Regions from separate parts of the Homo sapiens genome. Here all the other regions are linked to region 1. The links come from fine-mapping of genetic effects on gene expression. A gene starts in region 1. Each other region holds a variant in brackets. All regions are shown on one strand. Distances are between the middles of the regions. Region 1 holds the start of FREM1 (FRAS1 related extracellular matrix 1). Region 2 overlaps FREM1 (FRAS1 related extracellular matrix 1). Region 3 overlaps FREM1 (FRAS1 related extracellular matrix 1).

Region 1 (5,231 bases):
CATGGTGCTTTGTGAGAGAAAAAAATACATCTGAAAATTTTTGAAGAAAAGCAATTAGCGAAATCTTTAGGCCTATTCTCAGAGTAAATGCTGAAAAGCTCTCATAGCCCATATCTGTGTTTAGAAGACTGAGTCATATCCATCAATGTCAGAATATCAGAGCTAGGAAGATACCAAAACTCATTTAATTCAACTTATTTTACTGATGAGGAAGTGAAGCTTTGAGGGGTTAGATGGCTCTTCCAAGGCTGGTTAGCAACAACTAAGATTTGAAACACCATGAGGACAAGGACCCTGCCTGTGCATGCCATCCCCAGTGGGCATTCTGAAATCCTTAAAAACTATCACAGAGCCTGGCATGTAGCAGGTGCACCTAAATGTTTGGAATGAGGAAAGAAAAGAAAGCAAGGGGCTCTGATGGCCATGTCCAGTTTTCTTTTTAATATAAATATTAAACGCCAGAAAATGCAAGGATGGGGATGGAAGCTGAGCTCTGACTTTCACATATTGTGAAATGAGAATTTTAACACCATGGAAGAATCATTTTCTGTTTCTTCTCATCCCTGTGGGATGGTCCAATCCAAAAATCATTTTCTAGGAATGAGGCTCCTGAACCATTCCATGAAATCAAGCTCAGTTTACCCAAACTCAGCCTCGCCCAACCCCTACAGCCCAGCAGCCCCAGGAGGCTGGGAAAGAATTAAGAACAGTCCTGGGTTTAAAGTTTCCAAAACAAACATTGCTTAGCCATGCGGGGGCAGATCAGGCCATATAGCCCAACATGTGAAAGCAGGGAACATGGTAGTCAGGTCCCTTTGCCCAACTCCTTTTTTCCCTCGTGGGAATGAAAAGGCAGAGATGAAAAGGGAAGCAAGAAAAAAAAAAGATGAGGTTGGTGGAAAACTGATTAAAAAGCCCTGGTTTGCCAGCCAAGCATGCAAAACCATGTTGCACATTAAGTTATGCTCAACAACAGCTCAAACTCAGGTTTCTTATTTAGATATAAGGTTTAATATTAACCAAGTACATGACAAGAATTTCATGTCAAGGACAATGTAGAGCAATGTTTACCCAAGTGTGACCCACCTGCTTCAGAATCACCTGGGAAGATTCCTGGCACCACTCCAGGTCTAAAATCCTTTGGGCCTGGGAACTGAGAACCTGCCTTTCACCAAGCAAATGGGGGTTCTTACACACAGTCAGTTTTGAGAATGCCTGATGGAGAGAAACAGCAAAGTTTCCTAGAGCTGCACTGAAGGCACCTTTATCAAATGTAAGCAGGGGGCTGAGGCACAGCTCTTCAAGCTTTACCTAGAGTCAGGAACAGCGGGTGTCAGTTTTCCAGAGCAGAAACCTGAAGAGCATTCGAATCACTAGCTCTGTTCTGTGAAGCAGCACCACAGAGGTTAATCTCTCCAGTAAGATTCCCAGGCTATAAACACCAATTGGCTCCCAGAAATGCTCTTTTTAAGCTTTGTAATGCACACCAAGCAACAAGACTGGGTGCAATAGTTTAAAAAAAAATCAGAAACTAAAATTAAATACCTTAAAAACAATAAACAATTTCCATAAGCCAAAAATTGTTTCCTGGATTTCAAAATAAAATGAAAAGAAACTCTTTACAACAGCACCAAAGTCTCTGGACCAAATCTCAGTACTGAGCAGAGAGAGCCTAAAAATCAGTCCAAAAACTTCAGAACAAGGCCATTTCTTTGCCTCCCCAGCACTATCTCTCTTCCCCACAATGAAACAGAAATCATGTTTTTGAAAATATGTCTCCAAATATAACTAAACTTAAGCAAAGGTATCCAGACATTATCTCATCCAAATTTCTCTATGTTTGTACCATGAGGATATTATCTGTTCTGTTCATTTTTGTGTCTTTTCCCTTTGCCATTTCATTTAGCTGAGAAGAAACATTCTAATTTCAGAGGAAACAATTACACAGTTAAAAAATGGTTATTTCATTGGCAAGTGCCAGCACGGATGGACTGAGAAGAGTTAGAAATTTGTGTCACGTAATAAAAAGAATCTCAGTTTTGGCATTTGGTTTGTTAACACTGCAAGTTGCCATCTTCTGAGTTAACAGGAGAGTTAAACTTTTGCAAGCCTACTCTTGCAGATGCTTTGCATTGTTACTTGGCATTAATGATATCACACAAACAATCTCTGGGGCATTCTGCTAACAGAACATTCACAGTCACAATGAAAAGAAACACATAAAACAGATACTTACAGGTAGTGGTTTTCCTTTCCAAGACAAAAAGTTAGAAACCCTTGGAACTGGCGGGCAGGATAAGAGTCACTGACACAGCAATCTGGTTTAAAGGGCTTTGAGAGGAAGGGGGAGGAAAAAGAACCCCGGGAAGGAAGAGAGCTGAAATTCCAGTCTTTCAGGTCAGCTGTGTTTGAGATTTCTTTTTACTAAAAATCCATTAACCCACCTCACAGAAAATACAGAATTGAAGTTCACATACACACTCCACTTTCTTTGCTGGTCTTCTCCAAGGCAGCTGCTGCAGCTTTGCAAACTTCCTGAGCGCCAAGCCTCAGGACTCCCTGTGAGAAGGGCATGATAAAGATGCCTTCTACTGTTTACACAGAGCCCGACCTCCCTGGCGGACAGCCACCGCTAGCCCCGTGCCTTCTGCTGGTTGGGTCCGCAGGGACAAAACTGAGCTTTTGTTAATGAGGTCGGTTGCCTCTTCCCAGTCTCTTCCCAGCTTCCTTTCTCACTACTAGTTTTGTACTAACTGCTCCGCCACTCGCCGAGCCAGAGCAGCCTCTCCCGCCTGCAGCACACAGGCACACACACACTCAGACACAGGCACACACACATTCACAAATGGGCACACAGTCACATACAGACACACCCACTCACAGAGGTACACACACAGGCACACATACAAACACGATAGACACACAATCACCACACACAGACACATACACAGGCAAATGCCTTCACATGCATGCACACATAGTGACCCACCCCACACATGTGCATGCATTCTCACGCATGCTCCACACACACACGGGGGCACACACATACGCACAGGCCGCACATGCCCACACCCACACATGTACATACTCACACAGACTCTTCCAACACACTTTTTTTCTGCCCTTCTTTTCTTCCAACACATTCCCATCTTCAAAGGTTTTTATTTAAATTTAGATGAGAAGCCCAGCATTCAGAAGGGACAGGGCCCGTTTTAACTTTTGTCATGGCATTTAAGGGAAAAGATAGGATGGAACTAGATCCTAAGGTGCTGTTTTTAAGTACCACCTTAGTTCTTCCATTTGTAAGGCTTTTTGTGTGTCTGGCTCTTTTCGAAAACCCATAAAAATCCCATTAATCTGATCCATTTGCATATAGTGCGTGATCCCAATAATGCAGATATATCACTGGCCAAGAACTGTCCTCTCAACAGAGATTCACATAGTTAACTTGTCAGTATTCAGTGGTCTGTGAAAGTCTTAATCCTTAACAACTGTTTAATAAAATGCTTTCCTGTATTTTATTCCCACCAGGAAAAAAAAAGATAATGGCCTACCATCTGGCCTTCTAAATTAACCATAAAGAGAGAATTTGAAGTATTAACTCACTTTGGGGGAACTGTTTATATTAAGACATGTCTGGCTATCCTAAACCTTTGCCAAAAATATAGAACACTGTGAATCCAATTCAACCTAGATGTGGTTTCCCGTAACAAGGTCACAACACCATATGCCTTTCTTTGGAAGCCATAAGGAAAAGAGAGAGGAAAATGAAAAAGGAGAAGAAAATTACATGAGGAAGGAAGAAAGAAAAGAGAAAAATGTAAAGAAGAAAAGAATGCATAAGAAGGGAGAAAAAAATTATGTATTTTAAAAACATGCTTTGTGGTTACTTTAGCAATGAATGGTGCATATACACTTACTCAAAGTCATCGGAGATTTCAAATCTTCAAGAATTTCTTGATTCATTTTATTTGCTCTGAGAATAAGTAGGTGAAAGTTAAGAATCACTAAGCTCTTTATAAGTGAACAGATATTATTTACTAAACACAGTTATTATTAAATAAATATAGTGACAATGTGTGAGTCATATATTAATCCTGAAAAGGCAAGAAATAAAGCCTTAATAATGACAGTTAAGAAACACAGCATAATAGACAATTTTATTCCCCAACTGATTTTCAAAATTGCCCAGGTTGTGAATATCTTACCTGCAAAGAAATGAAGATGGTTTTAGAAGCTGTTAGTTGAGACTCGGATTCCATTTGACAAAGGAATTGTATACTATGTACAAACGGTTGCATCAACATGCTTATTCTAACATCTAAATAAGGTTTATAGATTAGTCTAGAAACTAATAAGGTTTATAGATTAGTTTATAGATAGATTATAAAGTTTATAGATAGATTAAGAGCTAAATAAGGTTTACAGATTAGTCTAGAAACAGAGATAAATGTCTTTATATCACTTCTATGGGAAAAATAACTTAAGCATGCTAAGCAAAAAATAACAAACTTAGATTGTAAAGTATTTCAAAAAGTCCGCAGGAGATATAATCTTTCCAAAGTTAATTATATACATGAAGCTTGGCCTAACTGTGCTGAACATATTCTGAAATAGGCAGTTAAGAGTTAGATCAGTCAAAATGTCCTGAAATCTGAAGTACCTGTTTATACAAATGTCATTCCTTCTATCTGCCACAAATGAATAAGGGCCTGGAAATAATACAATTATCAACTTCAATCAATAAAATACTGTTTGAACAGATTGAAATGCCAAGCTAGGGAATTTAAAAAGAACTAGTCAAAGAAACAACAAAGAATTCTTCCCCTAAAAGCATGTGCTGCTGAACTTAGTGCTGGCACAAAATTCATTTTTAAAGAAATCATTTTACTTCTAGCCCTAGTTGGAGTGATAATGAAAAATATCAAATGTGTGTTGGAGATTGGCATATCATTTTGGATTGTAAATATGAATGATTTTTGTTGAATTGCTGTAGAATGTAGCATTCTCTGAAAGGCATAGCCAATGCCTTCACCAACAATTCATATAAAAAATTAGGAATGTGCCTATTAAATTTTGACGATGGCAGCAGACAGAAGTGTTATCTATTGCAACGTAAAGATAGTTTTCCACTGAGTCTCTAACACTAGATGGCCATGGGAAGCAATACTATGGCAAGAGAAGAGGATGAGTCCAGGAATAGAAAGGTTATACATACCACAATTGAAATA
Region 2 (5,231 bases), 26 kb before region 1:
CAACTTGATCAAAATCTTCTATTTCATGTAAACAATTTAGAATGCCAAATAAGCTCCTCTCAGATAGATTGTTAAAATAATATAGCAAATGTTTCCTTCGTTTCACTTATGATAACTTAGTAACTCTCTTCCAATATCTATCTCTGACAGGAATGTCTATTTGTCCCACAACATCCAACCTCACCTTCCTCCATAGAAATAAAAATTTTAACTAGGTATATAGTCACCCAGAACAAAGACTATATTTCACAGTCTCTCTTGTAGCTATCTGCGGCTATGTGATCAGATTCTGGCCAATGGAATTGAAGAAGAGCAGTCACATGGTGTCTCTGAGAAACCTCCTTTAAGAGGTAGTTACGGTGTGCCTCTTCTCCCTTTTTCTTTATGCTTCCCTCCATCTTGTTGCCAAGATGGAAGGTGCTGCCTTGCACATGAAAAAATGAGGCTATGGCATAGGTTGGTGGAGCTGTGAGCTAGAAGGACCCTGGGTCTCTGGGCCATTTGCAAAGCAGAACCACCATACCAGTCCATTCATCCAGAATTTTACACAGGAGAGAATGTAAACTTCTTTCCTATTTAACTCACTGTTATTATTTTGTGTGTGTGTGTGTGACTCATGACTGAACTTAACTATACCTTTAATAATCACTTCTTCTTCAAGTTTTTGTATTAATTTTGTTTAGTCACTAATCAGCTAAAGATTTAACTTCCTACCTAACAGCATATGGGACAATAGTTCATTCTCTAATTATATCATAGTAAACCCTTAACTGAGAGATAAGGTCAAAGTCCAAGATCCTAATGTTTATCTGCCAGGAAGAGACAAGAGAAGAGAGGAGATATCTATTCTTATGGCTCCCTGCACCACAATGCTGTTGAAAGAATAGACTTGAATTTTGAATATCTGGATTCTAATCCCGATTATTATTTTTTTAATTTTCTTCTTATCTTTTTTTTTTTTTTGAGATGGATTCTTGTTCTGTCACCCAGGCTGCAGTGCAGTAGCACAGCCTTGGCTTACTGCAACCTCCTGGGTTCAAGCAATTCTCCTGCCTCAGCCTCCCTAGCAGCTGGGATTACAGGTGCCCGCCACTACGCCTGGCTAATTTTTGTATTATTTTTAGTAGAGATGGGGTTTCACCATGTTGGCCAGGCTGGTCTCAAACTCCTGACCTCAAGTGATCTGCCCGCCTCAGCTCCCAAAGTGCTGGGATTACAGGTGTGAACCACTGCACCTGGCCATGGATTCTAATCCTGATTTTTATGAACATACTTTCCTCTTTCAAAAATGGGAGGCTGAAGCAGGAGAATCGCCTGAACCTGGGAGGCAGAGGTTGCAATGAGCTGAGATCATGCCACTGCACTCCAGCCAGGGCAGCAGAGCGAGACTCCATCTCAAAAAAAAAAAAAAAAGGAATCACCCATCTTGCCTCCAAAGTTCCCCTGTCAGACCAATAATCTATGTGGAAATATTTTCTTAATTACAAACCCCCATACAAATGTTAACATTATTATTACAAAATATATCAAAGAGACAAGAAAGTAAAGCTTTCTCAGGAAAAACAGAGTAGAAGGAATTGGGCCTGGATGAAGGTGGCAAGGTGGCAAAATTAGGTTCAATAAATGTCAAATAGAGTCTGTTTTATTTACATTCTAATTTTTTCTTTCTCATAGTCTTACAACAGAATACATATTAAAAAACTAAATTTTGATATTTCAAAAACAACCTGAAGCAACACAGTTAGGAGGGGGGAAAAGTACAAGAGTAACAATTTCCAAATTCAAAATCAAACAAAACTCATCCTTCAATCAACTGAGCCTAGACTGAAGGCTGCAGAATTAGAAGCAATAAAGATCAAAAAGGGTATGCTTTGTTTGGTTTTATTTGCATTCTAATTTTGCTCTTGTATTTTTCTCTTGGTGTTGGGAAACACCAAGTATGTGGACATTCCATGGAAAATACTGCTCTTATTTTTGGCTTCAAGAAGGTGGCATGGGAGGGGAAAGAGAAAAGAATTCAGACGAGCAGACCGAGAAAGGGCCAGAAGAAAAACAGAACAACAGCAAAGCAAAGCAAAATTCTGAAGCAAACAAGATTTCACAGTGATGATGGGTCTTTTAACACCTCAAAATGAGACGGTAATAACTGTCTTGTCTCTGACACAAAATTACTATGTCCAGTGACAGCCAACTTCTACATGAAAAACAACACTCTAATGGGAAGCCTAGCACATCTTGAGAATTTTATTTTCTTAGTCCCAGCATAGGGCTAAGTCAGAGCCTCAGAATCCATCTGTCCACAGCTTGCTCTGATTGCTAGTATGGGCACCCTCAGGGTCGGCAGAATTATTGGGGGCAGCTAGAAGTGGAAGTAGAAAGGGCACCTGGCCATATTCCCCAAGGGAGCTTGTAAACTGACTTTTAGCCACCTCGGACTTGATTCAAATCCTTGAAACAAATCCTGGCGCTTTGGGAGGCCCAGGCAGGCGGATCACCTGAGGTCAGGAGTTCGAGCCCAGCCTGACTAACACGGCGAAACCCTGCCTCTACTAAAAATACAAAAATCAGCCGGGCGTGGTGGTGGGTGCCCATATTCCCAGCTACTTGGGAGGCTGAGGCAGGAGAATCTCTTGAACTTGGGAGGCGGAGGTTGCAGTGAGCCAAGATCGCGCCACTGCACTCCAGCCTGGGCGACAGAGCGAGACTCC[A/G]TCTCAAAAAAGAAAAAAGAAAAAAAGAAAAAAAACAAGAAACAAATCCTGTCTTGGCTTGCTTGTGTGGCTCAGCTGTTTCTTAACATTTCGAAATCCTCCTGACATGACTGCAAATCAGTTCTGCTCTCCCTGACCATTTTCCCACCATTGCCTTTTTTCTTTACATGGTAATCATGTATTCTAAGTACAGTATATCTGTATAAGCCAATAAACGCCAATAAAGCTGTGTGAAAATTCTTTCTGAAATGTGAAAAAACACGCTGTTTTGAATTCTTATGAAAATTCATAAAGATTTCTTCAACCAAACTTTTTGGGAAATTTTTTGAACAGAAGAAAATAATTTAGTAACATAATTGGTGGAGGGGAAATGTGAGCTAGTATTTATTTCATAATTACACATTCAGCTTAACTATATGAGCATGTATTCTTCATGTTGATATAAACATGATACTCCTGTCACTAATTTGAGATAATCTGTGCACAACAAGAAAAAAAATGGATCTCAGCTGTACAGCTCTCAATGCAATGGAAATTCTTAACGGTCAATGGTAATGACGTGCCTTGATGAAAATAATATTTACTATTCTTCCTCTCTGGAATTTTGCAATGGTAGCTACCCAACACAAGGCAAGTGCCTTCCCCCTCCTATGCCCAGCATAGTTATCAAGATATCAATAATTCATCATAGCTTTTTTTTTTTTTTTTTTTTTTTTTTTGAGACGGAGTCTCGCTCTGTCGCCCAGGCTGGAGTGCAGTGGTGCGATCTCGGCTCACTGCAAGCTCCGCCTCCCGGGTTCACGCCATTCTCCTGCCTCAGCCCCCCGAGTGGCTGGGACTACAGCTGCCCGCCACCGCGCCCGGCTAATTTTTTGTATTTTTACTAGAGATGGGGTTTCACCGTGTTAGCCAGAATGGTCTCGATCTCCTGAGCTCGTGATCCACCCGCCTCGGCCTCCCCATCATTGCTTTTTATTTTCTTTGCTTTTTGCAGAATTCATATGTGGCCCAAAACTCTTCTCATTAGTGATCTAGGTAGTTATCACCATTTGACTAAAGATGACATAAGCAATGGAACATTTTTGTCTTCCCCAGGCTTGCAGTTATTACCCCTTGACTCACACAATTATTTATTGTTCGTTTTTACTTATTTTTAATTGAAAAATAAAATTGTGTATATTTATGATGTACAACATGATTTTTGTTTGTTTTAGAGACAGGGGTTTCACCCTGTCGCCCAGGCTAGCATGCAGTGGTGCGATGATAGCTGACTGCAGCCTCCAATTCCTGGGCTCAAGCAAGCCTCAGCTCCAGCCTCCCAGGTACCTGGGACTACAGGCATGCACCACCACATCTGGCTAATTGTTTTTTAATTTTCATAGGGATGGGAGTCTCACAATGTTGCCCAGGCTGGTCTTGAACTCCTGGTCTCAAGCTATTCTTCCATCTTAGCCTCCCAAAGTTCTGGGATTACAGGTGTGAGCCACCAGGTTAATGACTTAATTTAGCTGTTTTGCAATATATACATACACTGTTGTGTCATGATGTTTTGATATACATATACAATGTGAAATAGCTAAATCAAATAACTAACATATCTATTACCTTACATATCTTCTTTTTATGAGGAGAACATTTAAAATCTACTCTCTTAGCAATTTTCAACTATACAATACAATGCTGTTAACTATAGTAGTCATGTTGTACAATACATCTCCTTCCTTTGGACTAACTGAAATTTTGTATCCTTTGATCAGCACCTCCCCAGTCCTCCCTCCTCCCCAGCCCCTGGTAACCACCTTCTACTCTCTACTTCTATGAGAACAACTTTTTCACAACTTTAGGTCTTACAAGTACCCTAAAGTCATTTAAGAAATAAACTGCTGTGTGCGGTGGCTCACGCCTGTAATCCCAGCACTTTGGGAGACCAAGGTGGGCGGATCACGAGGTCAAGAGATTGAGACCATTCTGGCCAACATGGTGAAACCCTGTCTCTACTAAAAATACAAAAATGAATTGGGCATGATGGCACACGCCTGTAAATCCCAGCTACTCGGGAGGCTGAGGCAGGAGAATCGCTTGAACCCTGGAGGCGGAGGTTGCAGTAAGCCGAGATCGTGCCACTGCACTCCAGCCTGGTGACAGAGTGAGACTCCGACTCAAAAAAAAAAAAAAAAAAAAAAAAGGAAAAAGAAATAAAATACGCTAACAGAGAAATGGCATTTTAACTGAAAATAGCCACTTCAGGATGAACCCACCCAAACGGAAGAGATTTTTGAAATCCTCAACAAGATGGTGAAGAAAGCCAATGAAGATTTTCTGACTTCTACTCCACATTATAATCTTTAAAATGCTAGTCAGAAGCTAAACTTAGAAGTTATCAATAGAATGTACAGGGGCGGTGGCTCACTCCTTTAATCCCAACATTTTGGGAGGCCAAGGAAGGTGGATGACTTGAGCCCAGGAGGTCAAGACCAGCCTGGGCAATATGGTGAAACCCCACTCCTACAAAAAAAAATTTTA
Region 3 (5,231 bases), 19 kb before region 1:
ACTCCAAAACCCTTGCCCTTAACCACTACTGTTATATATACACTGCTTCACATCACACCAAAACCTTATACTCTTTGCAATCACTTCACTAGCCCTAAAGTTTTATTCCTATAGTATGCAGGAAATTTAACAACTTCCTTTATGGTTCCAGACAGCAATAGATACTATTCCAGAAGTTAATGTTTCACTAGAAACAATGTTCTCTAAAGGAAGTAGCTGCTGCTTTAAGAGCAAATAATTAAGAGAGATACCCTGTCTACCAGCATCTTCATGTTCCAACTGCTTACACTACAAGCCCAGGTTAAAGGTCTCAAGTCAAATAGGCCACTTCATAATTCTATTTTAAATCAATTAAATGTGTGTTGACTCACATTTAAATCAATAAAATGTGTGTTGACTCTGTCTATAACATTCTGCTTCCTCTTCTCTACAATGTTTTCTAATCCATAACCTACATCACACAATGTATGATTTTAGGAGAAACTTTAGAAATCATCGAGGCCATATTCTTCAGTTCATTTATCAATGTATTTGCTTTTTCTGAAAATAACTTTTTTTAAAATATGAAAGAAAGGCATGCTCATTAATTAAAGGACAAAAACACAGAAACATATAGAAAAAAAATATCCTTTTCAATACCCCCAAAGAGTTGTGTAGTATCCCTTTTTATTAACATAATGTTCTATTGTAAGCATTTTCTGTATTACTAAACATTCCTTGCAATTGTGCTTTTAATTTGTGCATTATAGCCACTAGATGGGTGTACTATAGTTGCTATAATCATCTCACTGCTACATTGAAGTAGTTACTATGTCAAAGATTGTGATAAAAAAATCCTTAAGTATAAATCGGTCTGTTTCTCTAGTTTATGTCTTTTGATTGATTTCCAGATGTGGAATTGTAAAGCTGAAGGGTGAGAACTTACTCTGAGGCTCTTGATATGCATGCTTTCTGGAAAGCTGGTACCAATTTCCACCCTCACCAGCCTTCCTCACATTCAACATTGCCCCTTTAATCTTTATTCATCTCCCAAGTGAAATGTATCTGACACTGTTTTAATTTGCACTTCCTTTGTTTATGTGGAAGGTTTAGTTTTTTTCCCTTTTATCTTAATGTCCCTTAGCCATTTGTGTGTTCTCTTCTAGGAATTCTTTCATTTACATAAGAGAGGAAGACCCATGGTCGTTAAATGCCTACCAAGACTACACAGCTACCTGGAAACCAAGGCTGGATGGGAATCTCAGTTCTGACACTAGACTAGTGCTATGTCCATTATCCCAGGTGGCTTCCTTAAATCACAGATGCTTATTCCAGAAATATTCCTTTCAGCATTTCCTTCCCAGATCTTCAGGAAGCTGCCAGACTCAGAACTCTGGAGAGGGAGCCCTCCCTCAGGCTATACTGTCATGAGTAGAGGGAAGGGAAAACTCCTTTCCTTCTATGCTCTTAGGTTGTCCGGGGCCTTGTAAATTAGACTGAAAAGAGACAAATTAACAAAGGGAAAACATAAAATTTATTGAATATAAGTGCCATGTGACGTGGGAGCCTTCATTAAAAAAATGAAGACAGAAAGAAACATTAAGCGTGAGCATTTTTATCCTAAGCTTGATGAAGAGTGGAAAGTTATGGGAAAATGTATTAGGACAAAGATGTGTGAGCTGAGGGTGGTAAACTGGGGGAAAGTGAGCAAGACCTGCCTGTGCAGATTCCCCATTGTGTCCCTCCATTCTTGGAGCTAAGGATACTCCTTTCCTCTGGGTATCAGGAGGGCACTTCTCTCACACAAGGGTACTGTAACCTGCTGTTCAGGGGAGAAGGTCAGAGAGTCTTTCCACCACATGCCACTTCTCAAATTCCTCCAGTTCAAAATATTCAATGTGCCAAGGCACCCTATTTGGGGATACCATGTTCTGAACCCCATGATGACCAAGGCTGCAAAGACAGACATACCTTTGCCTACAACACAAA[T/C]TCATTAGGTTTCCTTCCTTAGATTTCCAATAGCTCAAACTCTACCCTGCCATGTTTTGCAAACTGTGCTTGTGAAAATGAATATTTTGGAGACGTTAAAAGCTTGCCACAAAAAAAGTTCACCATACCCAAATACATTTGAAGCACAGAACGCTAAAATCACCTTCTAAAAATTCACAATATAATATGAGCATATTAAAGATTCTAAGAAGTCTTGCAGAAAGGAGCCTTTTTAAGCCCAAAGTCTGCAAACTTATGGAAAACGTTTTTTGTTCTTTTTCATTAAAACAAAACAAAACAAAACGGGTTCTTTGAGAAATCATTCAAGAGACTTAAAATGACTAAAATATAGAATGGCCAGAGGGTATCTAAAACATTTCTGGCCATGCCCGATAAATCTATACCTAATAAGTCTACTTCAGAAATTCAAATTCCAGGATATCCCTTGGAAACCAGACGTCTGCCTGTTTCTACAGAGGCCTTCTACTAAAACTACCTTCAAAGGTAGAGAAAACTGATTGCAGAGGGAAAAAATGTGTGCCCTCAACTTACAGTTCTGTTTTTAATGACTATCAAAGCCTCTTAAACCATCAAAAACATTTCCCTGAAGATTAGTTAGGAAATGGCCATAACTTAAAATCATGTTGCTTTCAGCCAGAGCGTTGTATCATACAATTTTCACAACAGGTTGCTTTAATTGAATAACTTAAGCAGAGTGAAAAACACTCACATTCATCATGGTGTGCCCCATTCTTCATCAGGGACCTACCGTGGGCATGTACCAAAACTCACACCTAGGGCCTTCCCCACCAGTGTCACGCCAACTGAAATTAATTTTCCTCTTCTTGAGTGAATTCTTCATTTCTTAATTTACAACAGAACAACACCAAACTGTGTAAAAGTGAGATTCTGTTTAAATTCGTATTAAATCATGTCCAGGAATTCATCTTTGAGACCAATTCAATTTTCAGAATGTATCTTGGCTTTTTGAGTATGACATATCATCTGTTCATTCATTGTACAAACAATTGCTGAGTACTCACTTAGGGACAAGTGCTACGTTAAGTGCTGGGATTGTGAAGACAAAAATGACAAAAAAAAATTCTTGCCCTTAGAGAGTGTACAGTGTAATTCAGAAAGACAAACATAAACTAATGATTCAAAACAGGCAGTAATGCCAAGCACAGGGGAACATGTCTGTAGTCCTAGCAACTGGGGAGGCTGAGGCAGGAGGATTGCTTGAGCCAGGGAGCTCAAGGCCAGTCTGGGCAACACAGCAAGACCCTGCCTCAGAAAAGCAAAACAAAACAGCAAGGGTGGTAAGTGCAGTAATGGTGAGATATATTTTATGGTATAGGACTAAATAGGAAGGCAGCATTTGACTCAAACTGGGCCTAGGGTACGCTTCCCAGAAGGGGAAAGAGTTAAATTTGAAAGAAAAATTAGTATTGAGAAAGGTGCATAGGAAAAGTAAGGGCATGTTTGAAGATGGAGAGAAAGAATGTAGCATAGTCAAAGAATCAACAAGTAGGTGTTATGTCAGAAGCAAGGAGTTTTTGTGAGAAAAAGTACAGGGGCACTGTGCAAGAAAAAGTTCAATAAGAGGTAACTTTAATCTTTAAGAGATTGAGGTCTTGTGGGAGGGAGATTTATAATCAGGTATTTTACAATACAAAATGGTATTTGCTGCCTGCTCTGTCTATGGAGTAGCCATTCTTTTATTCCTTTACTTTCTTAATTAACTTGCTTTCACTTTACTCTATGGACTCACCCTGAATTCTTTCTATCCTAAGGTATCCCTCTTTCTGAGTACCTAAGAACTTTCTGAGTACCTAAGAACTCTCTCTTGGGGTCTGGATTGGGACCCCTTTCCTGTAACATCTTTATGGTCACTACAGAAGGGACAATACTGAAAAAACCCCCCGACCCAAAGGCTAACTCTGGGTAAGTGGTGGGATCCAGTAACATTATTCTGCAAACCCCAAAGGGATGATACTGAAGAGGCTTCCAACCCAAAGGAAAATCATTTGCACACACAAATTGGCTGACTTTGGGTAGGTGGGGTGCATTTACCAGAGTAAATGACGGGATTGGGTTAGAAGCCCAACTAAGGAGAGTTAGAGTCTCTCCTAAGATAGAGTGGGTTAAAGGCCCCTCTTAATAAAAGGCAAGGACGCTTGACCGAACTTGGGTTTGAGACCCAACTTATGAAAGTTAGAGTCTTTCCTAAGATTTAGGGGGTTAGAGGCCCCTCCCAGTAAAGTCCCTCTCAGCTAAGAACGGGTTTGGCACTATAGGATGTTAACCACCATTTCTTTGGGTTAATCTGCCTTGCACTCTTTGCTGATGGCTGTGGGTGACAGAATTAGGCATGTACAGGATCATGGGACATGGGGACAAGTTTCCCCCTAAAGGGGAAACTTGAGAGCTGATGGAACTGCCATGAAAGATCCCTCTTCTACTGACAAGCTGCCGCCTGAACTTTTCAGTGTCGCTGCAATGGGTGGGTCTTTCTCTGGCCTCCCTGGGCTCTTCACCTTCCCCACTCTGCCCCAGGCAATGCTTTTCTCTCTCTCCTTTCCTTTTCCCGTCTTTACTATTACTCAGGGTGACCATCTTGCCCAGAGACCACGAGTTGAAATTCCTGGTCAGAGGTTGGATTAACAATGGCAGGGTCCAGCCGGGGGCACGTTTGAGCCTTGTCAGTTTGATACTAGGTGCTAAGCAGAGGGGCTAATGTCTGTGTTTTGTCACATGTATTTTACTCTGGCCTTCCTTCGTGTTGCGGCTTGGCCCCCAGAGCTGTGGTGCAGCCAGCCGGGTCAGTAGGGCCACTCAGAGAAAGGAAACCCTGAAGCCTGGCATGTCAGCAAAAGGGTAAGAATTTTGACTTCTCTCTTTCTCTCTCTCTCTCTCTGTGGTTGAATGAATGGTAAAAATTACTGTTTATCTCCTCTGTAAAGTTTTGATTAGTGGGAAAAAGAATTCGTGAGGCTAGTCTTAAACTGTAGTGAATCTGTTGTACTTTGTGCTATGAATTTGTCTTTCCATATCTTTCTGTCAGAAAGAGGGATACCTCAGGATAGAATGCGGGCCTAGGACCCCATAAGCCTGCTGTCTAAGACAGTCCAGCAAAACTGGTCAGTTATGTCCTTGGGAGCTTGATCTTGTAACCATGTGGCCCTGCTTTCTCTTTTCACATTGGTGGCCTGGGTTCAGGGTTCAATTCCTGGATCAGGAAATGAGTCCTTTGTCTTCTGTGT

Evidence for each region. PIP is the estimated chance that this variant, and not a neighbour inherited with it, causes the effect.
Region 2: its variant is the best candidate, but not a certain one, in a credible set for the expression of FREM1 in lung (GTEx, PIP 0.61).
Region 3: its variant is the best candidate, but not a certain one, in a credible set for the expression of FREM1 in anterior cingulate cortex (GTEx, PIP 0.54).

What each region holds. Positions count from the first base shown.
Region 1 is chr9:14,907,678-14,912,908 of GRCh38, forward strand. FREM1 (FRAS1 related extracellular matrix 1) reads right to left here and starts at 2,751. Exons shown (of 37, transcript NM_001379081.2): 1 at 2,237-2,751. RefSeq lists enhancers at 1-65, 1,015-1,516.
Region 2 is chr9:14,881,516-14,886,746 of GRCh38, forward strand. The region is part of intron 1 of FREM1 (FRAS1 related extracellular matrix 1); the gene reads right to left. Among named protein-coding and RNA genes, the nearest start is that of FREM1, 26 kb to the right of the region's middle. The variant A/G (reference allele first, on the strand shown) is at 2,709.
Region 3 is chr9:14,888,302-14,893,532 of GRCh38, forward strand. All of the region lies in intron 1 of FREM1 (FRAS1 related extracellular matrix 1), which reads right to left. Among named protein-coding and RNA genes, the nearest start is that of FREM1, 20 kb to the right of the region's middle. The variant T/C (reference allele first, on the strand shown) is at 1,969.